7 linked regions of the Homo sapiens genome follow. The protein of the gene in region 3 interacts with the protein of the main gene of each other region in a biochemical or structural test. Each region holds a gene or a part of one and is shown on either strand. Other genes may lie near its edges.

Region 1 (3,101 bases), on a different chromosome or scaffold from region 3:
GGCCAGGCTGGTCTCGAACTCCTGACCTCGTGGTCCACCCGCCTCGGCCTCCCAGAGTGCTGGGATTACAGGCGTGAGCCACCACGCCCAGCCTGTATGCCAGCATTTATCTTATTCACAATAGCCCAAAGAGGGAAAACACCCAATGTCCATTGACTGATGAATGGATAAGCAAAATGTAGTATACACATACAATGAAATAGTATTCAGTCTTCAAAGAAATTAAATTCTGACACACGGCGCACCATGAATGAACTTTGCAAACATTATGTGAAGTGAAAGAAGCCAGACACAAAGAGGCAAATATTGTATGATTCCATTTATTTGAGAGATCCAGAATAGGCAAATCCAAGAGACAGAAAGTAGAATGAAAGTTACCAGGGGCTATGAGCAGGAGCACGGGGAGTTACTGTTTCATGGGTGGGGAGTTACTGTTTCATGGGTACAGAGGTTCTGTGAGGTGAAGAAATAGTTCTGGAGGTGGATATTGGCAGTGCTTGCACAACATTTTGGATGTACCTAATGTCATTGAATTGCACCCCTAACCATGGTGAAAATGGTAAATTTTATGTATATTTTGCTACAATAAAAAATAATAATGCCCTCTGCTCCTTTGAGCGTTTTTGTAACAGTTTCCTCCAACCACAACAAAATAAATGTTTTCACTAATTCCATTCTATAATGCCCTATTTCAGAACAGCGTCCCTTATGATTGCATCAGTCCTGCCCCTCTCGGAATGACGGTGCAGATGCAACTTCAGGTTAAAGTGCACACTTTAAAATAGAAGCCAAGCACAGGCTGCGGCCAGCTGTTCCCTAGCCATAAATGGAAACGCTTTGTTTTTCAGATGACCGTCCGGCTGGAACGCGGAGTGTGAGAGCTCCGGTGACGAAAGTCCATGGCGGTTCAGGCGGGGCACAGAGGATGCCGCTCTGTGACAAATGTGGGAGTGGCATAGTGTAAGTTTCACTTTTAACCCTGGAATTTACGATACAGCTTGGCGACAGTTCATTTCTTCTCCTTTAAGACTTTATAGACTAAAGGCAACTGTGAAAACCAAATTTCTATTCATCAACTTGAAACGTAAGGTCCCCAACATTTAGCACATTGTGACTGTCACTCCTTAGATATACCTCCAAATTGTCACATCACATGAGTCAGCAATTTTGACTTACAATTTCAGATAGATTCTCATGAAAAAAAAAAGATGCCCAAATGTATGTTGAAAAGTCACGTCTAAGAATCAAGACTTCACTTTAAACTCCCCCACCCCTGTTAACGTATAGTGTTTAGTAAATGCATACATGAACTGTGTATACATTTAGTATACATAGTATCCTCCTCTGTATAAACACAGGGAAACAAATACAGGCAACAGGATGTTACTTAAAATACATTATCCTTACCCAGTGTAAGTTACACAAATGTTGAAACAAAATATTGAAAAACTGTCAGCTTCCATTACAAGGGAACTTTTATTTATTCAGAGATAGAGCCCTGCTCTGTCACCCAGACTGGAGTGCAGTGGCGCAATCTTGGCTCACTGCAAGCTCCACCTCCCAGGTTCAAGCGATTCTCCTGCCTCAGCCTCCCCAGTAGCTGAGATTACAGGGACCCACCACCACACCTGGCTAATTTTTGTATTTTTGGTAGAGAGGGGGTTTCACCGTGTTGGCCAGGCAGGTCTCAAACTCCTGACCTCAGGTGATCCACCCGCCTCGGCCTCCCAAAGTGCTGGGATTACAAGTGTGAGCCACCGTGCCCGGCAGGGACCTTATGTTTAAATAGCCACACTTGCTAGTGCAGGATCAAGTCAACCAAGATAATTCTAACATCTCCATGGCATTCGTGCCATGTGGCCACGTCCCCATTCCCTTATTCCATTCCTCCTGCCATGAACTCACACACTGATGTGTCCTCTGTCCGGTTAGCCAGGATACATCCCAAGAAGGCAGTGGGGGATAAGCCTGGTTAGGGCAAAAGGAGGAACGTGAGACCAAAAGGTCAAAGCAGGGCAGGGAGCTCGGAGCAGAGAGGCCCTCAGTAAAATACAACAGTGCCTGACGTTACCAGAAGCAATCATTGTGCCTAAGTTGGAATAAACTGTTCACAGTAGAAGCCAATCCACCCACCCCAAAGGAATTCCATCTCTGCTGTTTGATCTGGTTTTTTGTTTTGTTTTGTTTTTGTTGTTATTGTTGTTGTTGTTTTTGAGACAGTCTCGCTCTGTCGCCCAGGCTGGAGTGCAGTGGCGCGATCTCGGCTCACTGCAACCTCCGCCTCCCGGGTTCACACCATTCTCCTGCCTCAGCCTCCCGAGTAGCTGGGACTACAGGTGCCCACGCCCGGCTAATTTTTTTGTATTTTTTTAGTAGAGATGGGGTTTCACCGTGTTAGCCAGGATGGTCTCGATCTCCTGACCTTGTGATCTGCCCGCCTTGGCCTCTCAAAGTGCTGGGATTTCAGGCGTGAGCCACCACGCCCGGTCGTCTTTGATCTGTTTTCTCTTGCTCCATTGAATAGAGGCTGGACCACGCAGACGGAAAGCAATCAGAGAGACTCTTCATTGGGTAGACAACCACCCCCGTCAAAAGCAGAATCTTTTGCAGAGGGGTTGGTCTTGTCTCCATCATGTCTCCCTCTTCAAAGAAACGATGGGGAAAGATCATGAAGTAGGATCCTACAAATTTTCTATAAAGTACTTGTTTGAAAATCTGAAAAATAGTCACACGTCAACATCAGAGAGAAACACGGGATGGTTTATTGTGGATATCCTAGATCTCCATGACAATTACATACAGTTTCACGGCTGTGCCTGCTTTCACAGCTGGAGGCCATTGTTTCCTGACTGTGAAATAGAGAACATCTGCCTTCTCTGTTGGGTTCTCTCCTTTGTCTCATATTTTTGCTCTGTGGTTTTTTAACTTGAGCTCGTTTTCTTCCCCAACAGCGGTGCTGTGGTGAAGGCGCGGGATAAGTACCGGCACCCTGAGTGCTTCGTGTGTGCCGACTGCAACCTCAACCTCAAGCAAAAGGGCTACTTCTTCATAGAAGGGGAGCTGTACTGCGAAACCCACGCAAGAGCCCGCACAAAGCCCCC
Region 2 (4,427 bases), on a different chromosome or scaffold from region 3:
GAAGCATTTAGAAACATTGAAGGCAAATCAAAAGGATATGGAATTATAGAAGCAAGGGCAAGAGGGAGCTTCAAAAGATTCTTCACCTCTTATCATAACCACCACTCAATTTGCACTATTTTGTGTTCTTGAGTATTTAGTCTTTTCCCAAAGTGCGTATGTCATATTTTTTTTAATTTGCACAACCTTACTAGCAAAAGTATCTGCTTCTTGTGGCCTGGTACCATGTTTATTTCTCTTCTATTGCATGTGGACCTCCTATAGCCTTTAACTATGCTGCATTTATGGAAGTCAGGGACTAGATAGCCCCTGGACTGATTATCCATCATAGTTGTACCCAATAGTGACTGTTAAAGCTTAGGCTTTTGGAGCTCTAAATACCATAAAATCCCTTTCTAATGCTTGTGTCTGGCATGATACTTAGACCATAATATCTTTTTCAGACTAGCATCAAGTTTTTACTTCAGGTTGCTATATATTAGGTGGCTAGATTTGACCTAGGGTATGCAGACAGCTGTAAATTGAAATATCCATTCTCAATATAAGAAGACTTTACTGTATTTTATTTTTCAAAATTACACTTTTATGAAAACTGTCACAATCATGAATAATATAAAATTAGAATCTCTTTAGGATTTTGGATCTTACTAAAATTTCAATATCTAAAATAAATGAGACTGTTCATTTCAATATCCCTTTATTCCAGATACTAGGATGTAAAATGTCTTCATTTTTTCCCAGAAACAAAGGGGTTAGGAAAGAAGGCTTAAGCTCCAATATATTGCAATACAGAGATAGCCAAGGAAGATAAATCTGCTAAGCTGTGTGAAATATAAAAGGAAAAGCCATTTGGTTACTTTACTTTTGTTTTCATCTCTTTCTACCAATACGCTAAGTAATCTTTCTGACCTGGATAGAACCTCTAAATGTGGATATATACTACCATATAGTTAAAGAAACCCAATACATTGATTTTTACATACCCTAGGTACTTCATATACAATCTGCCTATTTTTTCCAGAATAAAAACCACATAAATTGAAAACAAAACAGCTAGCAGCTAGACATCCTATCAAAGAGTTTCTTTCTTTCCTTCTTTTTTTTTTTTTTTTTTTTTTTTGAGAGGGAGTCTTGCTCTATCACCCAGGCTGGAGTGCAGAGGCACAATCTCAGCTTACTGCAACCTCCGCCTCCCGGGTTCAAGAAATTCTCCTGCCTCAGCCTCCCAAGTAGCTGGGATTACAGGCATGCATCACCACGCCGGCTAATTTTTTTATTTTTAGTAGAGATGGGGTTTCGCCATATTGGCCAGTCTGGTCTCAAACTCCTGACCTCAGGTGATACGCCCTTCTCAGCCTCCCAAAGTGCTGGGATTGCAGGCGTGAGCCACCGCACCCGGCCTCAAAGAGTTTCTTGTTACATTGGTTAAAAGCTGTGTTTAAACAACAAAAACAATAATATGGCACACAATGCTTGTGCACCAATAACTTACAACTTTAAAATATATTCTTGAGATTAAAAATAGTCTTCAAATATTAAGCAATACTGCTTTAAGTACAGAAAGCCATATGTAGGTATGTAAATTGTGAACTAATCAAATGGACGATGTAAAGTCCAGCAAATACAGCAAGAAAACTCCATCAAGATTACTACATTAGTTTCCACTTGTGAGTGTGTATATTATGCATGAGAGTCCATTAAAAGAAGCTAAGTAGTGTAAGACTTTTATATGACAGTACAGATATCTTAATTGGTTTTCAATTTACATACCTTCTCTATGTAAATATACTATCATCTTCCAGATGATAATTAAATTACCTGGCATAATGATGGGTAATACAAACAAATACTAAATAATGTATAAATCATTAGCATGGTATTATTTTCTATATTACACAAAATATCTTTCATTCATTATGCTTTAAAATAGCTAATATTATAATTAAGTGCATTGATTACTTACATATTGCATGAAATTACTTTCTATAACATTACCTTATTTTACTATCTAAACATCAGAGGAATTATCAAAATATTACAAATAACATGCAATTACTTTCTGTAACATTACCTCATTTTGCCATCTAAACTCAGAGGAATATCAAAATATTACATCCCAAAATCTATTTAAATAAATTCTCACACATTAAAGATGTCTTTGGTAAACTGCAGGCTGCTCTTTGCAAGGCTCAAAGGAGAATTCTCATAAAGACAGTCCTGTATGAAGTCGCAATTCATAACTACTATTATTTGAAAAATGTTTTGAAATTTTAAATTCAGCTTTGCCATAAAAAGCATCATTCTGTTGAGATTCCATAAAAGAGAATACCTTATTTCCTTTTTTTTTTCAGACAGAGTCTCACTCTGTTGCCCAGGCTGGACTGCAGTGGCAGGATCTCAGCTCATTGCAGCCTCTGCCTCCTGGTTTCAAGCGATTCTTCTGCTTCAGCCTCCTGGGTACCTGGGATTACAGGTGCACTCCACCATACCAGGTTAATTTTTTGTATTTTTAGTAGAGACGGGGTTTTACCATGTTGGCCAGGCTGGTCTCAAACTCCTGAGCTCAAGTGATCCACCCGCTTTGGCCTCCCAAAGTGTTGGGATTACGGGAGTGAGCCACCACGCCTGGCTGATAATACCTCATTCTCAGAAAAAGTGTTCTCCATTTACCAAACAATGATCAAGATTTTATATCTACCACTTGCTTGCATTACTTATTGTTGAGATATATTTTAACACTGTTAATTGCTTGATTTTCTGAAGTTATAAATGAAGAATTTGGGGAAGAGAAAGCAAGATTTAAAAAGAGGAAGACAATATAATTTGTCATCCGGGTTGAAACTCAAAATTGAGAGAAGGGGTTACCATACATAATAATAGCAGGAAATTGGTATAAACAGATAAAGGAAAATCAACATGTACAGTCACCTTCCTTTTAAACAGCTCTATTTTGCCTTTAAGTAAGCATTCGTATGAACAGGAAGTTTTCACAATATTGCAACAGAAGCAGAAACATCTAAAATCAATTCTGCAGAATAACCCCCTCTTGCTGTCCACAGAAAAGTAATCTAGTCAAAATAAGTGTATATAAACTCGATGTAAGAATGTGAGAATATAAATACAGAAAACCTAAGGCATCCAATAAAGAATCTTAAAAAGTTCTTAAACACATGCAATTTATTACATCACTCAATGGTAAACTGACATGAAAGAAAACTACCTGACAAATATACATGACCCCTTATTCAGCTAATTCTGAAAATGAAGAATTTATTAAACCCAGTGACACTAAAATTATTACTGTATTTCTCCAAATTTTTTTCTGTAAAAGATGAGGAAATTACCCCAAGCTAATTTCTCTTCTCATTTTTGAATTAGGATTGCCTTTTAGATCTTTCAAACTTTATCACTTTGCCCACATTGCTTTTTGTGCTAAAAACATGTACGAGCTATTTAATGAGAGGGGAAAAAAAAAAAGAAAAGAAAGAAGGTAAATATAGTCTCAGACCAAGCCCTGAACTCATTTTACCTTTTAACTCCTTGTCAAATTCTCACACTGGGAGCTGCAACCCTGGCAACACTGCATTGCTAGCATGAAAGGATAGGTGGGCTCTTCTCCAAGAGCTCATCTTCCCAAGCCCCCTAGTACCTTCAAAGACTACTGGAAAATATAATCTTGGTGTTCTACAGTTTTAACAAATAAGCATAATAATGGCACCTTTCTTGGAAACAGCAATTTGGAGGATATGATGACTCCACTATCATTTTAAAGCTTCACAGATTAGAAGGACTGCCATTATAAATTCCACTTTACATATAAAATCTGATGCTTGGATGGATTATCTTGACAATGTTCACACCTATAAAAAGTCATAATGTTAAGACCAGAATCTAGTCCAGTGTTCTATCCAACTATCCAGCACTCACCTCTTTTTCTGACTACGGCAGTTTTAAAATGATAGGAACTCAGCCAACATTGGGCTGTAAGCAGAGGATTCGCCTTTATTCTACCCCAGCAGCCTAATGCCTGACCTAATTCTAATACCTGAAACAATGGTCTTGTTGAATTAAATATCATATGACACTTTGTTAGAAATAGCCTATTTAATAAATAAAATTCAGAACAATAGTGGCAAACAAAGATAACTCATGGTTAGGTGGAATGGTGGGAAAATGCTATGGTATTAGGGAACCCTGTGGGCAAAACAGCAAGCAGATAAGGAAAACTCCAGGTACAAATGGGGTTAGAGAGTCACCTGGGGCCAGAACTGCGGAAGCCAGACAGTTCTGGAGAGTCCACCCTCAGAAAAGGGTGGAACATGTTACTAGCCACATGAAGCTCCTCTCTCACTCCTTTAAGTTTTGTTCTCTGGACTCCAGAATCAAATGTCATGAGCAAAGGGTCAGGAAGATGCCAAGCTAGTTCT
Region 3 (4,427 bases):
AAATTGAAAAAAGGAACTAAAAGAAAGGGAGATCCTCTTAAAGGATCTTCAACCTCGCCAAGGATAATAACCTTTATTTGCCACCCCTTCAATTAAAAAAAAAGAAATTAAGGAAAACAAACAAAAAAAGGAAATCTTTTTAAGGGCAGATATTCTCAAAAATCATAAAAGTTAATGAAATTTACGAATCCTCCCCTCTAGATACACACATTTTAATTAAAAAAAGAAAGAAATATTAAAGGATAGGTCCCTGACTATACCAAATCTCCAGAATTTTTAATTCCAAGAAGCAGGGGCGCGGGGGGTGCGGGAGGGAGGGACAAAAGAAATACCACTCCTCCATGACTAAAGAGCATAAACCTTATTCTTAAAATACAATTTTTTTTAAGATTTAAAATAAAATTAAGAATGGAAGGGTATATGTGTTGGTGAAGAGGATATTACTAATGAAACAAAAACAGAATCCTCTTAAAGAGAAGAAGTACTTCAATGTCACAAAGACCCATTAATTTTCCTGTCAAAACACAACCAAAAAAAAAAAAACCGATTTTTTTAAAAGAAGAAAAAATGAAAGAAAATCCTTCTAATGGGAGTTGACTCAAATTCACTCAAAAACTTTATTCTTTTTATTTTATTTATTTATTTTTAATTAATTTTTAACTGATGCATAATAGATGTACATATTTTCAGGGAACATGTGATAATTTAATATATTTATATAATTTACCAAAAGATTTATTCTTAATATAGAATTTTTGTAATTTGAGAACAAATAGAAAAGATAGGTAGGGGAGAAACACAAAGCCAAGAAAGTCCTCTTAAACAAAAGTATTCTCAGCCTCAACAAAGCCCCTTTTTTTCTCAAAACAAGCAAATACATTTAGAATTATGGGGGGCGGGAAGGGAAGAACATGAACAGTATATTTTAAAGAGAAATATTTTTCTTAAGGAATGAAGATGCCCCCAAACTCACCAAAGTCCTTGAATATTTTTCTGAAAACAAAAAAGAAACAAAGAGAAGGAGAGAGGGAGAAAGAAGGAAGAGAAGGGAGAAGGAGAGAGAGAAACAGAGAGAGGAAGGGAGGGAGGAGGGGAGAAGGAGAGAGGGAGAAAGAAGGAAGAGAAGGGAGAAGGAGGGAGAGAAACAGAGAGAGGAAGAGAGGGAGGAGGGGAGAAGGGAGGGAGGGGGAAAGCCGGACAGGTAGAGAGGAGAGGAAGGTAGGAGCAGGTAGGGAGAGACTGAGATAGGGAGAGGAAAAAAGAGGGAGAGAGACAGAGGAAGGGAGGGAGCCAGAGAGAGAGACAAAGGGAGAGGTGGAGAGGGAAAAAGAAAGAGGGGGAGAGAAGGGAGGAGAGGGAAAAAGAAAGGGGAGACGGAGGAAAGGAGAGGGAGAGAGGAAGGAGGATGGGGGGAGAAATGTGAAGGGAAGGGGAAAAGGACTAGGTAGGATAGAGTGAAGGTGGCAGAGAAGGAGGGGTGGGAAAGAGGAAGAAGAAAATTAACAAAGGGATTATTTTTTAAAGGATCAAAGAAAGAAATTCTCTCCAGGAAAATGCACCAACACCTTACTGCAGACATTGCGTATTATTCCTGATGACTACCCTCTCCATCCCCCACAATAAGGAAAAAAAAACCACACACACACAAAATCTCTTTCTCAAGCTTCTTCAAGGTGGGGAATGTGCGTGTGGGGGGGGTGGTGGGTATGTACCCAATCTCACCCTATCCCAGGGACCTTATGTATCTTTCAGCCTTCACTGTTTCATTAAAAAAAAAAAAAAAAAAAAAAAAAAAAAAAAAAGCAAGGAAAGGAAAAGAAAATCTTTCCAGGAGAGATGTCTCCCATTCTAATTTTTCCCAATAAACTGTTTCTTTTAAAGAAAAGGAAAGAAAGAAAAATCCTACTAGGGAGGGCTCCCCAGCTTCATTAAAACAAGTTGCCCTTGTAGGTCCTCTCCACAAAACCTATTTTTTAATGGAAATCCTCCAGACCTAAAGAGAGATGCTCCCCCACCTCCACCAAAAGCAATGAATCTTTTCCCCTGGAGATTTTTAAAGAAAAAAATCTTCCATTGTAAGAGGAGATACCTTCAACTTTACTAAAATCAATGGACTTTATTCCTCTCCACATCCAAGAGGAGAAAAAAAATATTTGAGGAAAAGGGAAGAAATCCTCCTAATCTAAGGCAAGTTGGCTATAATCCCTCCAACACCATTGAACTTTCTTCCTGAGATTTTTTAAAAGAAAAAGCAAAGACAGAAAAAAAGCCTCAAAAAAAAAAAAAAAAAAAAAGCACTCACTTCTCCCACAGGCTCCACAGATCTGAAGTGTTGTACAAAGAAAAGGTACTATCCCTCTCAAATGGCACCAGTGAACTTTACATTCAGCACTAAGGCTAAAGGATGATACATTTTAATCCCAGGCTGGCTTCCCGCTGCCCCAGTCTATTTCTGGTTACCTTCCCCATCATCCAGGTAGGCAACACTCCCAAGAAAGGCACTGTCCAAAAGAAAAAGAATTAGGAGGCAAACCTTCTGGGGAAAAATCATACCTCTTTTCCAAACCGAACAAATGATTTGGGAATTCGCTGCGTCATTGTTCCCATCTAACACTACAGAGAATTAAGAGTTGATGATAAACTCAAAAGCAGTGACACTCTTGCTATTAACTACCAATTAGTCAGACACCCCTACCTAACAGGGAAGGACCCTTCGCCAACTCAGTAATGGAGGTGATCCATCCTCCATTATGTTTCATTATGTGCTGGCTTTGATGTCTGTTCCTGCAGGGCGATAAAAGGGCTTGATTTTCACAAATCCATAAAATTTGCAAATCATATTTATAAGCAGAGAGACTCAATTAATGTTTTCCAAATTTTAAAATTCATTTATTTCTTTAAAACGTAAACTGATACCTGCTCCCTATGTGCTATGTGTTTAACATTGTGCTAACCACTGAGGATTCTACAGTGAACAAAACCACATGGATGAGACTACCTTTAAGCAAAACTGGTAAATGAGAGACTCAATTACCAAAACAAATATGCAGATGGTGGTTATTTGTTTTACCAGATGCTTTGCCAAGGTATTCACTATTAATAGTCAGTTCTCTCAGCATTCCTCTACTTAAACTAAAATTCAATGTAATAAAATAAAGGAATGCATGCTAATTTCAGAGAATGTGGAAAATCAAGAAAGCTTCTAAAAAGTAAATAAAAATCATCTAGTACCCCACCACTCAGAGATAATCACTGTTAATATTTTGCTATATTTTTCATTTATTTTCTCTGAATATTTGCTTATAGTCTTCTGTAGTAAGACTTTGGGGAATGCACAATTGTGTCTCGGGCTTCACCCTGCCCCAGTCACAGCCCCACACGCTTAATTATTAGATCGTGTTCATTATTCTACCTTGGATTTAGGAAACACTTGTTCATTTTAGCTTAAAGTTCATCTAGTCAAACTCCTGTCTGATCTGATTGTTAAACATATGCTTGAATCACAACCATTCAGGGGCATATTTGCTGTGTGAAGCAGTAAGTATATAGATTTTATGTAGACACAATTGTTGCAGTTGCTCCCATATACAAATGCAGTTTGATCTCACATTTACTTACTGCACTTTTTTGGACACTTAGATTTTATTTGTCCAGTTAGCTTTTGTGACTTGGCCTTGGAGAAGGAGATCCAGAACAAAACCAACCTTATCTTCCCACTGTTAAATTCCCAAAGGGAAAAAATCTAAATTTCTGAGTCACTTTTAACTATATGCCAAAAAAAAAAAAAATTAGTGATGGCTTTGTCTCTTTAACAAGAAGTTACAGCATTATGCTAAACTGGGTATGCCATACCCAGAAGGGAAATAAGAATATATGAGGACATTATCCACAATTATAAGGAAATAGAATATTCAATTCATCCAGCTTTCATTAACCAAGTGTGATCAAAACTTGAGAGAGTTAATAAACTGTATACAACCCAACCAAGGCTGAATCAGTAATTTAAAAGGGAAGTGTAATGCATTATTGAGTAAGATCAGAATCTTCAGCCTGGTCAGTAGCACTTCAGAGATTTTCATCTTCCAAAGCATTATAGGCATTTATTGTTTAAGCCTCTTGCTTTAAAGAGCCTGTAAAGGAAATATTGGCCCCTGAGGACAGGGATTCTTACCCCTTGTTTCCCTCAAGCACGTGTAGGATACTGAGAGATATGCTTAATGCTCCCCACCCACCCACACATCCAGAGCTTTGCAGTGTTCTTCTGAAACAAGAGGCAGTAGTTCTGAGGACTGAGCCTTTTCCCTGCCTCCAAGAGTAGAGGGGAATGAAAGTATGGCTTGTAGGACTAAATCCTGGATGTTCATTCATTTACCTTCTCCTGCAGCAAATGTCTCTACCTTTTCTCTTCTGGGATTTTGCAGCTTGAC
Region 4 (4,427 bases), on a different chromosome or scaffold from region 3:
TTCCGGGATGAAAATGAACTCACTATGGCCAAAATCTTGAGACAACAATGGAAATCTAGCATTATTCTTATAATCTAAATATTTACCCATCAAACTCAGTGTTTAAGGCCTTAGAATCCTTCCTTCATGTTATGAAGAGAAAATAAGTTTATAAAATACATAATTTACTAATACATAATTAAATTTATAAAATAAAAAAAATTACAAAGTAAGTAACTAATTGGTAGGATTCAAAGTGGAATCTCAATTGAAAATCAAGTCAAAAGCAATTATTATCATCACCACCACTACCACTATTTTAAATATCTGAATATTGTTTCCTGCAATAAATATTTCTGTCACTCATATCACTGTCATCTATCAGTAGAGGACAAGTGTTTTTACTTTTCCTGAACTATTGCCCAGAGATAGCTCAGTAAGACTATTTTAAAATAACTCCTTTAACATTCCATCTCTATTATCTTGAATGTTCTTAAAATAAGATTTTAAAAATTCTATAATTGTGACACATAAATTGTGGACTTGATGAATACCTATGTAGACTGATGGGAAATGAATGTTTTAAGGCATAAAGCTTTATTCGCTCATGCTTTTATGATATTTACTCATGTCTATTTATTTTACTTCAGCTGCTGATAAATGTTAATATTTATCTGGCCATTTGTCTGTATTGGTCTACAAGGCTGGCATGAATTGAAACTATTCTCTTCTCAGCTTCACAATTGATTGCTAACGTTATTCAAAGTGATTTAATCTACTTCCATCCCAAGGCCTTCCTAAATTAAAACTCTCTGACCTTTTGGTACCCTCAAATTCAGTTTAACAATGTATTTAACATTTTCTACATAATAATGATCTAATTTGCTAACATCATGCTTTTTTAATACGATATTATAATGTTGTATAAATACTGTATTACAGGGAAGCTTTTCCAATTACTTGCGTATAGAGAAAGGTGCATTTTGTTTAACTGTTAGTTTGTTTTCATTTTGTTTAGTTTTGTTTTGCCAAATGCAGTTGAAAGCAAAGGTAGGAGTAAGTATTTTGAGCATTGGTCGGAAATTGCACTACCACATAAATTCTAAGGTAAATTCCTTTGAGTAGAATCCAAGTAGAAGCTCACGCCCTTCAGCTGACGTGCCTGCATGAGTCATAACTGTCTTTTAAGGAAGGAGGAAAGGGGCAAAGATAATTATGCTGCTTCCAAAATTAAAAAAAATACAAATATAAAAAATGAAGGCATTTCCTACAGCTGTTCTGTGAATAATACCTCTAAAAACATTTACAGTTTAAATTAGAGTTTCAGAAAGAAGTTATTTAACTCTTAAACTGACATTGCTTCTTCTCAGAAACCCAAATTTGCACAGACAACTGGGAAGATCAAAATCAAAGAGCTGTGGTGTACAGCTCTAGGCTCCTTAGCTGAGAGATAAAGGAACAGTTTGACTTCAGATATCCTAAAAAGAAAATGCTCCAAGAAACAGATCCAAATAGAAGAAAGGGAGACATCTCAGATTATAAATACTCCATGACTTAATGATTCATTGCAGCACGGAAAGGATTTCTCTTTACGCAAGAGTACTGGGCTGGGTCCACTTATTACGAAACACATGCTCACTGGGGCTTAAAAAACAGCTTCTATTTCATTCCTTTCAAGAAAGCACAGCCTCTAAAAGGACTAGTTGAGTTATCTGTAAGTTAAGATTGATCTGAAGGTGCTGGATATGTTTATGTGACTTCATAATGTCTAGACCAAAACTTAGTCAATAAGACATTGAAATGCTTTGTCACATTCTAGCAAACTCATTATAAGAGATACCCAGATTCCAAGTACTTACAGATAAACGGGATCCATGTAGTTTTTTAAAAATAAAAGCTGAATTTAGGATGGATTCAGGTTTCATAATCTTGTGTAAGAGTTTCTTTGTGCTTTTAAAAAAGTTTATTTGGTATCTCTTTAAGTAATAATATGAACATGTTGCCACCTTCTGTTTTCAAATATGTTGCAACTGACATTTAGAAGAAAATATTTTGACTATATCACATATTAGACATCACAAAAGTGTCAGGAAGTTCTTTGGCAGATGTAACATAGTCTGATTTAAGTGTCTGGAATGATTTTTCTGTGTGCAGACCATCCAGTGGAATAAGTGAGGCTTTGATATCTGAAAATGAAAACAAAAACCTCGAGCATCTCACACATGGGGGTTATGTGGAAAGTACCACCCTGCAGATTCGACCGGCCACAAAGACCCAGTGCACAGAATTCTTCCTCGCCCCTGTCAAGACTGAAGTTCCCCTAGCTGAGAACCAAAGAAGTGGTCCCGACTGTGCAGGCAGCTTGAAAGAAGAAACAGGCCCGAGCTACCAAAGGGCTCCCCAAATGCCTGACTCCCAAAGAGGACGCGTGGCAGAAGAGCTGATCTTAAGGGAGAAGGTAGAAGCGGTACAGCCTGGGCCTGTGGTTGAGCTGCAACTGTCCCTTTCACAGGAGAGACATAAGGGCGCTAGTGGCCCTTTAGTGGCTCTCCCGGGAGCTGAAAAATCTAAGTCTCCTGACCCAGACCCTAACTTGTCACATGACAGGATTGTCCACATAAATTCGATCCCTACTAATGAGAAAGCAGACCCTTTCCTGAGGTCCAGCAAGATAATCCAGATCTCCAGTGGCAGAGAGTTGAGAGTGATCCAGGAAAGTGAAGCAGGAGATGCGGGACTGCCCCGGGTGGAAGTGATCCTCGACTGCTCTGACAGGCAGAAGACAGAAGGGTGCAGGCTTCAGGCAGGAAAGGAGTGTGTGGATTCTCCAGTGGAAGGAGGGCAGTCAGAAGCACCTCCTTCTCTGGTATCCTTTGCCGTCTCATCAGAAGGCACAGAGCAGGGAGAAGATCCACGCTCGGAAAAAGATCACAGCAGACCTCACAAGCACCGAGCGCGGCATGCACGTAAGTTCTGCCTGGGCTTTCAGAAGGGGCTTGGGAGTTGGGGGCATTTTGCTGCTTCTTTGCTTGCATGAGTTTTTCAGCAAGATTTTTCTTATGTTTCTCATTGGCTTAAAGAAATATTTAATTAATGCACAAAATCACAAATGTGAAATTGTGGAGAATACCAATTTCTAAATAGGAAGCAATAAGTCCGAACTTCATATAGATTTAAACATTTTTCATGAATTTCTTTTTATCCCCAAAGGCACAGGAACTGTTAAAGAAAATAATATTGTCAATGTGCCTGTTCATTTTGTTTCAGACAGTTGAAATAGTTCATGTTAAAATAGCATAAGAAAGCACTTGAAGTCATGTGGACTCAGTTTAAATGTCAAAAACTGTTGAGTCTGCTACTGAGAGGTGTCTTTAAAATAAAAGCTCTACCATTGATATCAAAAGCAGATCCTTGTTTTGAAAAAAAATCATTGTGCAGCTTGATGATGCTTGCAGAAGTGAGTTTGACAGACAAGGACATGTGTATACTGAGCAGTTACATGATCCTCTCCGTTGTGTAAGTCTTCATTTGACTGCAAAGTGTTTCATCTACCTTCTAGACACAGAAGTCAGTCTCCAGGGCCATGTGGAGGCATTTAAATGTCTCCAAACATAAAATATATTTAAATTCAGTGCTTTGTATGGCATTTTGTTTTACCCAGGGGAGAGAAGACAGAAAGGAGAATTGGGATAAGAATTGCAGTTAGGTGTTAGGATTTCTATTGTTTTATTTCACGTTTATTTTTGTTTGTTTTTTTTTTTTTTTTTACTAATTTTGGAATTTTATTTGAGGATGTAAAGGCTGACAGGCAAAGGCACTTGACTGTATATATGATACACAATGGCAATGAATTCGGTTATTCAAAGTAGGATATTAAGTCTTCTAACCTATTGTTATTCCTTTCAAAGCATATTTTTAGCATAACCATTTGTAGCTTTATTGGCAAGTGCTGTTAATCATTCCTTATACTTTAAGCATCTGTAGGCCATCTTCACATTTATAGCATATTAAACAAGAGTATTGAGACACCATTCACATACTTTACATGTTGGCAGTGAAGTTAGCAGCAACTGTGCAACTGTGACTGTCAATTTAATAAGTTGTATAACACTAGTCAAAAAAGGAATTCTATTTAGTAATAACCACAGTTTCAACTATTTTTCTCTAGAAAATTCGATCACCAGTAAATGCCTGTAATCATATTATAAAATTATTTCCTTGGATTATATTTTATTTAAAAAAAATTAACCATTAAGTCTGTGACAAAAAGAGCTAATTTTCAATCATAAAATAGTCAAAAATTTTTTCTTAATTTTCCACTTAACTGTTTTGAGGAATTAAAAAATTTAGGGGACTCACAGTCATTATCATTGAAAATATGATATAACTATAAATTATAAATGATAGATGCTATATGTTTAGTTGCTATAATTTGCCACCCATTTCTT
Region 5 (4,427 bases), on a different chromosome or scaffold from region 3:
TATTCCTAAGTAGCTAATCCTCCATCAAGGATTCTCTATTTGCAAATTTGACTACTTGCTAAAATTTATTCATAACCCTCAAAACAGCTGCAGGGATTTCTTGGTCATCTAGTAGACATACTTAGAGCAGTGAAAAATTTGAGTCATCTGAAGACATGCACATTTCCAGGTGAGATCAAACAAACCAACTCATTTTGTTTTAGCTCTCATACTGTAAACAAGTGGCCTTTTTGCATTCTATGTAGTGCCTTACTTTTTACCTTTTGGGTTTTTTTACTGGTGATTTTGCTGTTTAAAACTGACCCCCAAGTGTAGTTTTAAAGTGCTGACTAGTGTTTCTAAGTGCAAGAAGGATGTGATATACCTCATGGAGAAAATATGTGTGTTAGATAAGCTTCCTTGAGGCATGAGTTATAGTGCTGTTGACTATGAGTTAAATGTTAATGAATCAGCACTATATATTAAATAAAGTGTCTTTAAACAGAAACAACAGTATGTATTGATCAGCTAATTAAAATGTTGTGACTTTTGGCCTGGGGGAACCTAACCCTGTATTTTCCCTAGAAGCAATGATTAAATAGTCTCTAATTTAGCATGTACAAAGACTTTCTAGAGCATGACAACATCGAATGGTGAGAATTAACTCAACTGACATATACAGTGATATATTTGGGCTTAAAAATAATTTGGAGGTTAGTATTTAGCTAAGATTGGCCACTAGTTGATAGCTCTTGAAACTGCGTAAGAGGTATGGGGGGACTCTTTTATACTATTCTCTCTACTTTTGTATAAATTTAAAAATGACTATTAAAAATGTCATTTGCATAATTTCCTTTTCTATGAATTGTCTTTGCATGTCCTTCATCCATTATTTTCATTGTTCTTTTTTTTTTTTTTAGACGGGTCTTGTTCTGTCACCCAGTGACAGTCATGTGATCATGGCTCACTGCAGCCTCAACCTCTCAGGCTCAAGCAATTCTCCCACCTCAGTCTCCTGAGTAGCTGGGACAACAGGCATGCACCACCATGACTGCTAATTTTTATATTTTTATATTTTTATTTTTATTCGAGAAATGGGGTCTCAATATGTTGCCGAGGCTTACTTTTCTTATTCATTTATGAAGCTCTTTGTATATTAAATAAGCTTTTTCTAGTATTTAAAAAATTCCATTTGTCATTTGATTTTAGTAGTTTTTAAGCATACCAAAAATAACAAATTTTACCTTGTCAAATTCATCTCTTTAAGCTTAGACATGTATCTAAGCTTAAAAAACCTCCCCTTGAGATTTTAAACAATTTTCACATATTTCCTTCAAATAATTTCATAATTCCACTTTAAAAATTACATTTTGATATATTTGAAATACATGTTGGCATCAAGAGTGAGTAGAGGTAAAGTATTTATAGATGAACGATATGATATAAAGATCTGCTTCAAAAGAACCTGGTAAAGGTGAAACCAAGTTTGTCATCAGTTGACAAGTGCTGAAACTGAGTGATGTGTACATGAAGGTTGATTTTACGGTTTGCTTTAATTTTGTACATTTGAAATTTTCTAATTACAGAGTTAAGAAAAAAATAGTAATTTTTTTTTCCAGGTAAGAAAAAAAAATGCCTCTTTACAATGACGTATTCTAGACTAGTGGTCCCCAACCTTTTTGGCACCAGGGACTGGTTTCTTGGAAGACAATTTTTCCATGGAGTGGGGTTGGGAGGGTGGGAGGTGGGGATGGTTACAGGATGAAACTGTTCCACCACAGATCATCAGGCATTAGATTTTCATAATGAGCATGCAACCTAGACAATTACTGGTCCATGGCCCAGGGGTTGGGGGCTCCTGTTCTAGACAGTTGACCCAACCACCCATTCACTGGATAGTCTATCTCCAATGATCTAAAAGGCCACCTCTACCATAAACAAAATTCTAGTATCTAAGTCTATTTATGAACTGGACTATTCCATTCCACTGCTCTACCTGTATTAATACACAAGTACCAAAATATTTTCTTTAATATTACTTCAATAATATTTTTCATAGCTGAAAGTTTTAATATTCTATCCAGGTCAGGATTTTAACAAAAAGAACCTCAAAGTTCATAGTGGCTCGTATTTTTCCAAATGGCAAAGGCATAATAAGAATAAACTTACATTTATATAGTTCGCATTGATGTAGTCTTCATTACCTTTTAAAATGACCCGTGTGGCATCATCTAAAAAAATTTAAAAGAAATAATGTTTTAGTAAAGTTATGTTTAAAAGATTAAATTTAACAGAGACAATAAGATACTTACAAGGCGAAATATCTCTGTATCTATTTTTGGAAATATTCTGAGGTAATTTGGCACAGGACATTGTCATTCCAGGTTTTTTCCGATACAGTTGCTAAAAAAAAAAAAAAAAGGTACAATTCCAACAAAAGCCATAAACAATTTCTCTTTTGTTTACCAGACTTGTTTCTACACTAACAGGAAACAGGTTTCTTTGCCTTTGAATAGGTCATCTATACAATGATATACCATAGTCTAGTAGAGTACTGAACCAGATTTGCAAAGCTGAATTCTTCAGTTTCTAACATAAATTATGTGTCATATTTTGAAAAGTGGTAAAACTAGTGAAACCAATTCTGCTTACAGCAGGAGCACCTGAAGTTGTGAGTAGCAAATCTGCAGAAAACATTTAACTTTCATTTAGTTTGGAGGTGTTTACAGTCTATGAACTAAGAACTTTTGAACAAAAACAGACATATCCTAAATGTTTTATAGTTAAACACTTACCTATAACATATATGTCAGAACAACAAATATTAATGATGGTCATTTCTAAAAACACATTAAAAACTATCCAGGGAGCCTAGCATGGCTGTGCATGCCTGTAATTCCAGCTACTTGAGAGGCTGAGGCTGGAGGATTGTTTGGACATAGGAATTTGAGATCAGCCTAGGCAACATAGTGAGAGGCCGCTTCTCAAAAAAAAAAAAAAAAAAAAAAATTCAGGTTTATTAATTTAAACAAATTAGGTTGATATAGTCTGAATAAAACATTTCAAAATCCACTGGGTGATCGTGGGTCAAAATGCACATTATAAGCACTGAAGAAGCATTCTAGTTCATTGGATATAATGATCTGTCTGAAAGTTTTGGTTTTTCCAGTTTTCAAGATTGCACCAATGAAAAATAAACAAAGATTAAATGACAAGGTATAAACTTCAAAAATAAAAGTTATTTTCCTTTAGCTCAGGATTTTATTTATTTATTTATTTATTTATTTATTTATTTATTTATTATTTTTTTGAGATGGAGTCTCACTCTGTCGCCCAGGCTGGAGTGCAGTGGCGCGATCTCAGCTCACTGCAAGCTCTGCCTCCCAGGTTCACGCCATTCTCCTGCCTCAGCCTCCTGAGTAGCTGGGACTACAGGCACCTGCCACCACACCCGGCTAATTTTTTGTATTTTTAGTAGAGACGGGGTTTCACCGTGTTGGCCAGGATTGTCTTGATCTCCTGACCTTGTGATCCGCCCGCCTCGGCCTCCCAAAGTGCTGGGATTACAGGCGTGAGCCACCACACCTGGCCAAGCTCAGGATTTTAAAGTATATAATAGCCTATCTTCATCTGCCACCTTTCAAAAAAACAGCTATTTAACTATAGAAAAAAATTTAGTTTGATGACATATGTATAAAATTTCCTTATCCCTCTTTTTAAAACATATTCTATTTATATAACCATAGCTAGTATTTTGGGAGCAATTTTTAAAACTTGGCATTTTAGAACTCTTTATGTCAAACATTTCTCAGAATATCATTTTAGTTTAGAAATTATAATGCACAGATTAGGCACTTAAGAAACTATGAAACTAGTTAGCAAATATCAGCAAAATGCTTTTAATATATAATGATATTACTTACATCAAACTGTGTCAGGACTGTTCCAGTGATAAGCCCCTCAGCTAGCTGGATCATTGACTCCCGCAGGGAATGGTCATCCTGATGCACACTATCTAGTGGGGCTTTCTCAGGAATATACTGGAAATCTGGCTCATTTTCTAGCTTTTCTTCCACTACATCATATACAGCTAAAAAAAAAAAATCAAACAAACCCCAAAACGTGGAAATCTTAATGAATTCACACGATAGGAATTTACCAGATACACTGTATAATGTTTTGTTCAAAAAATAATTCATTTGTGAAGAATTACACCAGATCTGAGTCTGGTGTCACTATGGGGGGACAGAAACTAGTTGTGGAGTTGAGGGGCTTTGCTGTACCTTTGGAGGGAAGAAGTGTTCTTGGCTACATTGCTGAAAATGTCTATAACTTGAAGAGACAGTAAGAAAGAAGAGCTGCTGAGAAGCAGCTGTGAATACACCCGCTCTTAATTTGTAGGGGACCTAGGGCAAGAGTACAAATAGAGACCTATATACCATATGTTT
Region 6 (4,427 bases), on a different chromosome or scaffold from region 3:
ACGCTATGATATTATAACATGTACCTTTTTCTCTTTATATGGGGTATGGTGTTCATATTTTTGATGACCTGTCCTTTAAAATCGCTCTTTAAAATTATAAACTGAATTGAAAACATTTCACTGAATTATGCTTTCATGCTGACTTGGAAAAAGAAGCCTGAAACTTGGAAATGGTGATGGATATTTTGGAGACATTAAAAGTCTATAAAACAGATTTGTCAGTTTCCTACTTACAAATCTGTAATCCACAGAATCTAATTCTTATCTATGTTAATGAGCAATCCACTAAAATTGAATGGTAACCCCTATAAATAATATTTAGGAAAAATTTATCAATATTCACTTTACCTCCAGAGGAAATGTTGCTGTGAACACATTTTGCACCTTGTTAGAATTTCTCTGGGTTTTTAATGAGTGAGTCTGCTGTGGGCCAATATTTATCTACATCTCCAGGTTCAGCATACTGTGATTTTAAGTGGCCACATCATTAACCTTTGAAAAATGGAGGAAGTCATGGAAAAAAACTAACAAAGAAAAACAGTGCCATAGCAACTGCTGTTAGCAACATCAAATCTCCTACTGATAAATTATCAGAAAAACTTGTGGGGCTTTGGTTGTAGAATGAAAAAGTATGATTTTCATGTCTGTATTTCTTTGCTGATATGTTCTCAAAATTGTTGTTAAAAACTGATGTTTGCCTTTGCTTAGTGGGGATAGTTTAACACTTTCCTCTCTGTCTCTACCTGCCCCCTTCCAGGTGGTGCATATGAAGTCAAACAGCATCGATTCTTCCGTTCTTTAGACTGGAACAGTTTGCTGAGACAGAAGGCAGAATTTATTCCCCAACTGGAATCTGAGGATGACACAAGTTATTTTGATAGTATGTGCTTTATCTGACATAAAACATTGTTTGGCCTTTACTCGATAAATAATTATCTTTGCTTTTGAACCTTTTCATATCTCTGAGTTCTTAAACATAATGTTGATCCAGAAAATCATAATTAAAATATCTAAATGTTGAAAATCTGAGTAATTGGACCTGTTCCCAAACATTTCACTGCAGCTCGGTCTGAGAAGTATCATCATATGGAAACGGAGGAAGAAGATGACACAAATGATGAAGACTTTAATGTGGAAATAAGGCAGTTTTCTTCATGTTCACACAGGTTTTCAAAAGTAAGTGAAATGTGGCATAAACATACAGAGTCTCTCTGGGAGGATCTCCCGCTGGCCAGATAGTATCCCCGAACAGCTGGACACTTACCGTTTTCCAGGGTTTGAGGTCTCCTATGCTTAAACTTCCTTTTGTTGAAGAAAAGTGACCTCCTCAACTTATAGTCTGTCCCTATCCCCTAGGCCTTTAGACTGCCATTTTACCTTCTCTCTTTCCTGTGAGACAACAGAGATTCAGATAGCTGAGACCTTGGGCTTACCTGAGCTCTGATCCCCTTCAGGAACCCCGGCACCAATATATTTCTCTCTCCACAAATTAAGATATTGTTTTCTTAGAGGCATAGCCTTGCACCCACAGTCTTGTTTTTGGAGTGTGTGACTGCTACTTATATGATGACCTTGCCTTGAACGTCTCTCACCTGGCTCAATGCCAGGCTGCAGAGGTATCACTCATTGCTTTCAACTCAGGATGAAGAGCGCGAGCTTCACTGTGTACAGAGTCATCTCCGAGGGATTACACAGAGTACAACAAAAGGAGAAGGCTCAGTCCTTGACATAAGCAAAGATACCTGCGGACAGTTGACTGTAGGATTGTAAAGTCTCATAACTGCCAGGCATAGTGGCTCACGCCTCTAATCTCAGCACTTAGAGAGGCAGAGGCAAGAAGATAGCGTAAGCCCAGCAGTTCAAGACCAGCCCGGGCAATATAGTGAGACCCCGTTCTCCACAAAAAGGAAAAAAAAAGCCAAAAAAAAAAAAAAGTCTTGTAACCAATAAACAGAAATTATAAGCCATATTGAAAAGGCAGTAGGAAGCCAAGCTAGAATCATTTAGATAATTGATGCTTGAGAAAGATGCCTTTTTACCAGTACAGTAAAAGTTAAAAAAAACAATTAATCAAAACAAAGAAAACTGATAGTACTGAGACAGAACAAGGCCCTAGGAAAAACGGAAATCAACCTGAGGGCACCCTACCTCCCTTTTGCTATTTTCAGTAGCTATATATTTTCTGTTGCCATGGCATTTTGCATGATTATTGTTTAGCTTTTCTATAACATTTAGTGATTTTAAAGTGCTCCGTAGCTTTTTCTAAATGATTACCTAGATGCACCTGCAAATTGGCCAGCACTACCCTCCTGTGTATGGGAATGGCATCGAGGTAAGGATTTCCCTGGAGAAGGTGGTAGCCAGTCTGTCCTAGAGCCAGGACAGAAGCTTTGCTAAGTGTGGACTCAGACCAGGACTGTTCTCTGGGCCATCAAAGACAACAATGCCAACCCCTAAACACTGCTTCCTTCTTTGCCTTGGTGGGTATTTCATTTTCCCACCATCTCCTTTTCTGTAGCCACTTTCCTGCTATTCCTAGTAGATTATAGGAGGCCTGAGGACCATTCCCATGAGAGCAGCAAGTGTCTGAGCAGGGCAGTAGGGAGCGCTTCCTGCCCTAGGCTCTTAGACCCCCATTTTACCTTCTCTCTTATGAGACAACAGAGATTCACAGATAGCTGAGACCTTGGGCTTACCTGAGCTCCGATCCCCTTCAGGAACCCCGGCACCAACATAGGAAACTGCCTGTCTATAGATGTGATTTGTAAGCGAAACAAATACCTCTGGCTCTTATAACGGAATATGTACTGCATCCTTGCCACACCACCACCCAGTCTTGAAACAGATAATTTATTCTTCTGTTTGCACTCAATTCCAATTCATTTTTCTTCTTCCCACCCCTGACTGGTGGCCATTAAATCTGTTTCTCTGTTATTTTCTTTTTCCAGTTGACTTCATGGTTAAAAAGTAATCAAGATGTGCATTGATCCCAAGGCCTAGAAACTCCACTGCATCTGTGGATTTTGTTTGCAGATACAAAGTCCGCAACAAGATATGATGAGAGGATGATGAATTCATAGCTCCCTATTCGTATATATGTACACACACACACACACACACACACACACACTCACTCACCCTGACCCTTCCTCTCTGGATTCTGGTTAACAACACTGGAAAGTACTTTCTGAATACACAATATTAGTTCAGAATTTAGTTATCCTCTCAGGTTTTTCTCCCAAGACTTGGAGTGTTTTTCTGACAAACTCTTTTTAGTAGATATTAATAAGCACCAATTATTTGCCTTCCAGGTTTTCAGCAGTATAGATCGAATCACTCAGAATTCAGCAGAAGAGAAGGAAGACTCTGTGGACAAAACCAAAAGCACCACCTTGCCATCCACAGAAACACTGAGCTGGAGTTCAGAATATTCTGAAATGTATGTGAAATGCCTCTTAAGTAATATAAGCAGTAGCTACTAGAGCAGAGTTTCTTAAACTTTAGTGAGCATCAGAATACCTGGGGGGCTTGTTAAAACACAGATCTCCCACTTCCAGAGTTTCTCATCCAGTAGATCTAGGGTAGGGCCTGAAAATGTGCATTTCTGACAAGTATCTAGATTATGCAGATGTTGCTGCTGTGGGTACCACACATTAAGAACCATTGCACTAGACATCTCTTGGTTAGGCTTATCCAAGTCCGATTTTCACCTGGTTTCTTCCAAAATTCACCTTTAACACAGTTTTCTAGTATGTATATATGACTTTGTTTTTGCTTTTAATTAAGGCAACAGCTATCAACATCCAACTCTTCAGATACTGAAAGCAACAGACATAAACTCAGTTCTGGCCTACTTCCCAAACTGGCTATTTCAACAGAGGGAGAGCAAGATGAAGCTGCCTCCTGCCCTGGAGACCCCCATGAGGAGCCAGGAAAGCCAGCCCTTCCTCCTGAAGAGTGTGCCCAGGAGGAGCCTGAGGTCACCACCCCAGCCAGCACCATCAGCAGCTCCACCCTGTCAGGTAAGCCCCGGGCCATAGTGCCTGCTGTCCTCCTCACCACACTAAGTGTCTCCTAGTGCTCAGTCCCAGGGCGGGCCTCGCCAGGCAGTAAAGATGGGTGTTTTATGCTGCTAGACTTTCTCCATGGCCTCAGTCCTTAGGCTTGGGACACGATCTTCTGAGAGCTAAGATCAGATGTCTCAGACCCCTCCTCAGTGCTCGGCCATGCAGCAAACTGTTATTGCTTCCGTTTGACCTTGGGGCCAAACTTCACTTTCTCAGCCAGGTTGCAGGGGATCTTTTGAGGGAAGTCAGAACGTGCTAAGGGAGCGTGTTCTCAGTTGTTGATGCAAAGGTATGTCTTATACAGTTGCATCTAACTCAAAAGTTCAGTGTAAGAGCCAGTATCAAGTAGTCAGCTTGTCA
Region 7 (5,155 bases), on a different chromosome or scaffold from region 3:
TTTAACCTTCTGGTGGCCTCTGTGTCCTTACCTCTAAAATCAAGGGTGTGGGAGGATTGTCTCTTGCAGCTTTAACATTCTTTGAATCTGATCAACAGAAGATGGAGGAAAAAAGTTCTTCCAAACCTGGTCTATCAACTGCTATAGTGAAGGTCCACAAAATGAAGTTTTACATTTTTTTTTCAGATTACATATCAATTTTGGTTCTATGTTTGTTTCTTCAATATTTTTGGTGATAATCTAAAATGGAGATTTCATCAGTCTGCAAGCACTGGGTTCATATTATCTTTTCCTTATTTCCTTTGCCTTTAGCTTCATTACTTTTTTTGTTTATTATTTTTTAAATTGACAACTAAAAATTATATATACTTATGGTGTACCACATGATGTTTTGATATAAGTATGCATTGTAAAATGGCTAAATCAAGGAATTAACCTATTACCTCACATACTAATTTTTTTTGTGGTGAGAGCACTTAAAATCTAATCTTAGCAATTTCCAAATATACAATACATTGTTATAACTATGGTCATCATGCTGTACAATAGATCTCTTGAGCTTATGCCTCCTAACTGAAATTTTGTATAGCTATGTTACTTTTAATATTAAATGTGGATTCTGTAAAATCCCAGTTTTTACAAAATGTATTAGGAGTAACATAATAAGAGCCTCATAAATTAATTTTTTCAGAAAGAAAGCTGTTCATTTACCTAGGACTTTTATTTAAAATACATATGTTCTTTGAAATGAAAGAAAAGCTAATGTTTCTCCATTTATTCTAACTTACAAATTAAGCTGTAAAAGAAAACCACAATAGAAATTGCGTAAATTACCCTTAAGAATCAGCCAATTTTTACCACATACTTTCATTTGGTACACCTTAGGTTTCCTTATGTTTCCATTCACATACTACCATTACATAAGGTTTTACTTTTTTTTTTTTTTTTTTGTCTTTGAGCCCTTCAAGTGAAGTTACCATTGAAAATCAAACAATACCTGTCCAGTGTTGTAAATTAAATATCGTGTAGTTTGATATCATATACCTGCCTTTCCATATCAGCCTTTCATTAATTATAAGTACAAACACCAAAATAATTGTTATCAAGCCCCACAGTAGTTTTTAACTTCAGTTTTCAACTTAATTCTCATTATCCCATACTTTTAAACAGAAAAAAGTTTTAGTACATATATTACCTGGAAGTAATTCTAATCTGTTCCAATAACTAAATAGCTGAGGCTTCTGGGTTAGATATGGTTATCTTCTACTGTTCAAATTTTTAATACAAAGCATGAATGTTAAATTTGTATATAACATTATTACAAAATGACACTGGTAACATGAAATCAGAACAACATTCTTTCCCGAGTACCTAGTACTTACCCACAAGGCATTGTAGATTTCTTTTCATTTAAAGAGTGGATAACAATCTTGGAGTAGATAACAATGAAAACCTAGAAAAAAAAACCCACCTCCTGTTTTTATTGAGTCAAACAAGCAGAACTTTGATTGGAAAGTCCCATTTCATATATTACACTGGTAGTATTTTCTTCTAACGAAAAAAAAAAAGCCCTTGTGCCACCACCTTGACATGTACTTAAACGTTTACCCAAATCACTTAGGCATTGCTTCTCAAACTTGGCTGCATAGCAGAATTGCCTGGAGGGTTTTTAAAAACACAAATGCCTATGTCTCACTCCCTGAAATTCTCCTTTAATTGGTACGAGGCGGGGCTATTCTAGGAACTATTTTCTATCCCTTGGCAATTAGCCATCTGTATAGTATTTTTAACTTCCTACGTGTTATTAACTGTAAGACTGTTTGAATTGTCAGGTCTTTGTGGTGAGCTGAATTCTGCATGGCAGTGCTTACTGTGCAGAAAGGTTGCAATGCCTCACTTTGCCTTAATCCATGTTCCTCTAACTTCCTTACTCTTTCTCTCAAGAGGAGGCAAGTGGCTGTGGCGGCCGCAGCAGTGGCTGATCATCACTGAAAATACCAAAGAAAAGAACTGAGCTGCCTCCTTCATATTTTTTCCATTGAGGATTAATTTACCGTGCTTTTTCATTTTCTCTACATCCTGCAAAAGTTTTTTTCTCTCCTAAGAAACAAACTATGAACTGATTGTTGAAAAAAAGAAGTAAAAAGTTTTAGCACAGCTTCTCTGTCTCTTCGGGACAAGTTAGAAAATTCTGAAGTGAGCCGAAGCATAGTAAGTGCTTTCTTTCTTTTTAAGCTACTTCTGGGGAGGGAGGAGGCTATTGTAATGGTAAATTTCACTCCGAGAGGAAGAAAGGGTTGATAATCAATCAAAAATGAGGTATTCCTTTGAGTATTTGTGATTTTCTTACTATATTGTAAGATGCTTTTAATTTTCTCTGTAAAATAGGCAGAAATGGTTTTAGTGTGTGTATGTGTGAAATAAAAGCTCAGAAAAGCAATCTTCAGAGCGCCACTGAAGGAAGTTTTGACGAACGGAGTAGAGATGTATACCACTTGGGGGCTTCAGTGAGAACCCAGAATTCCTGGAGGAGGATTTACATTCAGAAATGTTGAAGTGAAAATTCCTTCTGGTTCAGCATCTTGGAGTTCAGCTTGGAAGAACATTTTACGTATGGAAGAATTTGCTTCTCCAAACCTCTCTTTTGGCCATTGTGTGTCCTGAAGGATGGGACAACTTGTGCTGTAGAAGCACTGCTTGCCTGAGTTTGCTTCAGGCATTTTAAATTTAACTTGAGGGATCATGTGTTTGGCATGATGAGGACCACTGAAGACTTCCACAAGCCTAGTGCCACATTAAACTCTAACACGGCCACCAAGGGAAGGTACATTTATCTGGAGGCATTCCTGGAGGGAGGAGCTCCCTGGGGTTTTACTCTAAAGGGTGGCCTGGAGCACGGAGAACCATTAATCATCTCTAAGGTATGTTTCTTTTTCCAATATTGCCTTTATTCAAATTGTTTTTTTCAACTTGTCAGATTTGTCAAAAATGCAAAATAATGAGAACTGCCTTAATATAACTTAATTTGCTGTTTCATGCCTTTCTGATTATCTAGAAATATTTTGGATAGCCTGGGATTTGAAAGAAAAATGTGTCTAGCTCATTTATTCTATGAAATCCGAAGAAAAATATGCCTGTTTGATGGATAATCTTCTCTTTTTGTGAATGAAATCGCATACAATCAGTTACCACATGAGCTTTTCAGTTATAAATCAGATTAAAGATTAATAACATGGTTAAGATGGTGGCATGGTATATATTTGTGCATTCAAAAATATCTGCTTTTTCTCTCTTCAACTGAAAATAGCATCTAAAAATATTTTAAGTTTGCTTATAATTCTGGATAATAGATTGCATAAATACCATGTGTTGCTTTTTTTCCCCACACTCAGAAAGGAGAATTAAATCAGCTTTCAGCATAACTCAAGATCAAAACATTTCTGCCTCTCCTATTTATCTGTATATTTGAATCCCTTTTTAAACCTTAGTCATCCTGCAGCATACCTCAATTCTTCATTTATCTTTTGGTGTGGGTAGTCATACCAATGAAATATTTATGTACTGGGGTTAATATTTCTATTTTTCTCTTAAACTACAGATTAACATTACTTGTTATAATATTGCTTTTAAATTTTTAGAGTATTTAATAGTCTGATACAATAGATTATAATGGCTTTTCACACATGTGCATTCATCAAGAAACATTTGTAATTAAGGGAGAAAAAATTTTTAATTTGAGGGTGGGAAGAAGGTAATATGGATTGCATTTGAGCTCTGTTATTGGTTCAGGTTACTTTTCATATCCCCAGAAATAATTCCAAAAGGTTATTTTTCAAATTACTGAAGTAATTCTTACTGTGGATGAGCCAGGGAGAACTGGGTTTCACAGTGATAAGCCACGAGTGCACGGGACACCATTATAAGTTGTATGACTTTTCCTTAACTTTCTTAAGTAAAACAAAAGGATGTGCATATGTGTGTGTCAGTTAGGAAGGCTTCCCCCTGTGAAAAAAATTCAAAACCGAGTTTATAGTGGCTCTCAGTAAATTGGGGTTTGTTTTTCTCATATTACAAGAAGTTTGGAGGTAGATTTTCCAGGCAAGGGGAGCAGCAGCTCAATAATGTGATCAAGGACCCCACTTATCTCTCCACTCTGCCATTCTTATGATGTTGGCTTTGTCTTCATGGTTGCATGATGGATCCCACAACTCCAGCATTGATTGCATCTTCATTCCAGACAGGTTTTTGGCTTTTTGTTTCTCATTAGACCTTTGCTTTCATCTCATTAACCAGAACTGTACCCTGTGCCTGTCTTTAGGCCAATCACTGGTAAGAAATGCCAGTGATTAATACAGACTGATTAGGATTTCTTTCACAGGTTTCTACAATAAGGACCTACTCTTCCTGAAGTCAAGGAATCATTGCCCACTGTTTGAATGATTTGAGGTTCTTTTTGCAGGAAGAAAGAGGGCATGGTTGCTGAATAACAGATAATTCTGCAATGAACATAAATATTGTCTCGGCATTTAAAAAGTCTAGTTGTACACAATTTGCCTGTCCCTTAATGATAAAATATTCTGTATCTATACACTACAGTATCTGACAGTTTGCTGACAGAAAGGTCTAATCCTCCCACTAATGAGCCAGCTTCTCTAAGCCTCCATTTTACCTGCAGAATGGGGCTATCCTACTATCTACTTTAATGGGTTGTGTTTAAATGCAACCATGCATTTAGGTTAGTGTCTAGTACACAGAAGGAGCAAAGATTATGATTATTGCTTTTCATTATTCTAGCAGACATGTGTAGTAGGAGACAGGTCTGGCTGCTGTAAAAAGATCCAAAATAACAATAATATAGGAATTTATTTCTCTGACATAACAGTCTGAGCATAAGCCAAACCAAAAGATGGCTCTATGATGTCAGGGACCCAAGTTCCTTCTATTTTCTTACTTCCATCCTGGAGTGATATCTCATCTTCATGGTCCAAGTGACTTGCCACCACATCTGCTTTCCAGTCAGTAAGAAGCAGGGAAGAGGGAAAAGAGAAGGCAATCTCCTTTCTTTCAAGGATCCAATCTGGTCCAATGTGCTCTGTCCAATATGGTGGCCCACAGTCACATGTGACTATTTCTATTTCAATTAAAGGTAACTAAA

What was found.
Region 1: the proteins of DGKK (region 3) and PDLIM3 interact in a test that uses a peptide from one of them, tested with the Homo sapiens proteins (one large-scale study listed by IntAct).
Region 2: the proteins of DGKK (region 3) and RIMS1 interact in a test that uses a peptide from one of them, tested with the Homo sapiens proteins (one large-scale study listed by IntAct).
Region 4: the proteins of DGKK (region 3) and SYNPO2 interact in a test that uses a peptide from one of them, tested with the Homo sapiens proteins (one large-scale study listed by IntAct).
Region 5: the proteins of DGKK (region 3) and PTPN4 interact in a test that uses a peptide from one of them, tested with the Homo sapiens proteins (one large-scale study listed by IntAct).
Region 6: the proteins of DGKK (region 3) and MAST4 interact in a test that uses a peptide from one of them, tested with the Homo sapiens proteins (one large-scale study listed by IntAct).
Region 7: the proteins of DGKK (region 3) and SHROOM3 interact in a test that uses a peptide from one of them, tested with the Homo sapiens proteins (one large-scale study listed by IntAct).

What each region holds. Positions count from the first base shown.
Region 1 is NC_000004.12:185,502,334-185,505,434, reverse strand, and holds part of PDLIM3 (PDZ and LIM domain protein 3), read left to right. Parts: intron 1-848; coding exon 849-960; intron 961-2,951; coding exon 2,952-3,101. UniProt on the Homo sapiens protein: May play a role in the organization of actin filament arrays within muscle cells.
Region 2 is NC_000006.12:71,892,367-71,896,793, reverse strand, and holds part of RIMS1 (regulating synaptic membrane exocytosis protein 1), read right to left. Parts: intron 1-4,427. UniProt on the Homo sapiens protein: Rab effector involved in exocytosis. May act as scaffold protein that regulates neurotransmitter release at the active zone.
Region 3 is NC_000023.11:50,460,258-50,464,684, reverse strand, and holds part of DGKK (diacylglycerol kinase kappa), read left to right. Parts: intron 1-4,427. UniProt on the Homo sapiens protein: Diacylglycerol kinase that converts diacylglycerol/DAG into phosphatidic acid/phosphatidate/PA and regulates the respective levels of these two bioactive lipids.
Region 4 is NC_000004.12:119,024,494-119,028,920, forward strand, and holds part of SYNPO2 (synaptopodin-2), read left to right. Parts: intron 1-2,133; coding exon 2,134-2,945; intron 2,946-4,427. UniProt on the Homo sapiens protein: Has an actin-binding and actin-bundling activity. Can induce the formation of F-actin networks in an isoform-specific manner.
Region 5 is NC_000002.12:119,954,799-119,959,225, reverse strand, and holds part of PTPN4 (tyrosine-protein phosphatase non-receptor type 4), read right to left. Parts: intron 4,070-4,427; coding exon 3,903-4,069; intron 2,383-3,902; coding exon 2,292-2,382; intron 2,211-2,291; coding exon 2,149-2,210; intron 1-2,148. UniProt on the Homo sapiens protein: Phosphatase that plays a role in immunity, learning, synaptic plasticity or cell homeostasis. Regulates neuronal cell homeostasis by protecting neurons against apoptosis.
Region 6 is NC_000005.10:67,141,358-67,145,784, forward strand, and holds part of MAST4 (microtubule-associated serine/threonine-protein kinase 4), read left to right. Parts: intron 1-757; coding exon 758-880; intron 881-1,063; coding exon 1,064-1,176; intron 1,177-3,311; coding exon 3,312-3,439; intron 3,440-3,786; coding exon 3,787-4,022; intron 4,023-4,427.
Region 7 is NC_000004.12:76,433,300-76,438,454, forward strand, and holds the start of SHROOM3 (protein Shroom3), read left to right. Parts: upstream 1-1,929; 5' UTR 1,930-2,753; coding exon 2,754-2,921; intron 2,922-5,155. UniProt on the Homo sapiens protein: Controls cell shape changes in the neuroepithelium during neural tube closure. Induces apical constriction in epithelial cells by promoting the apical accumulation of F-actin and myosin II, and probably by bundling stress fibers.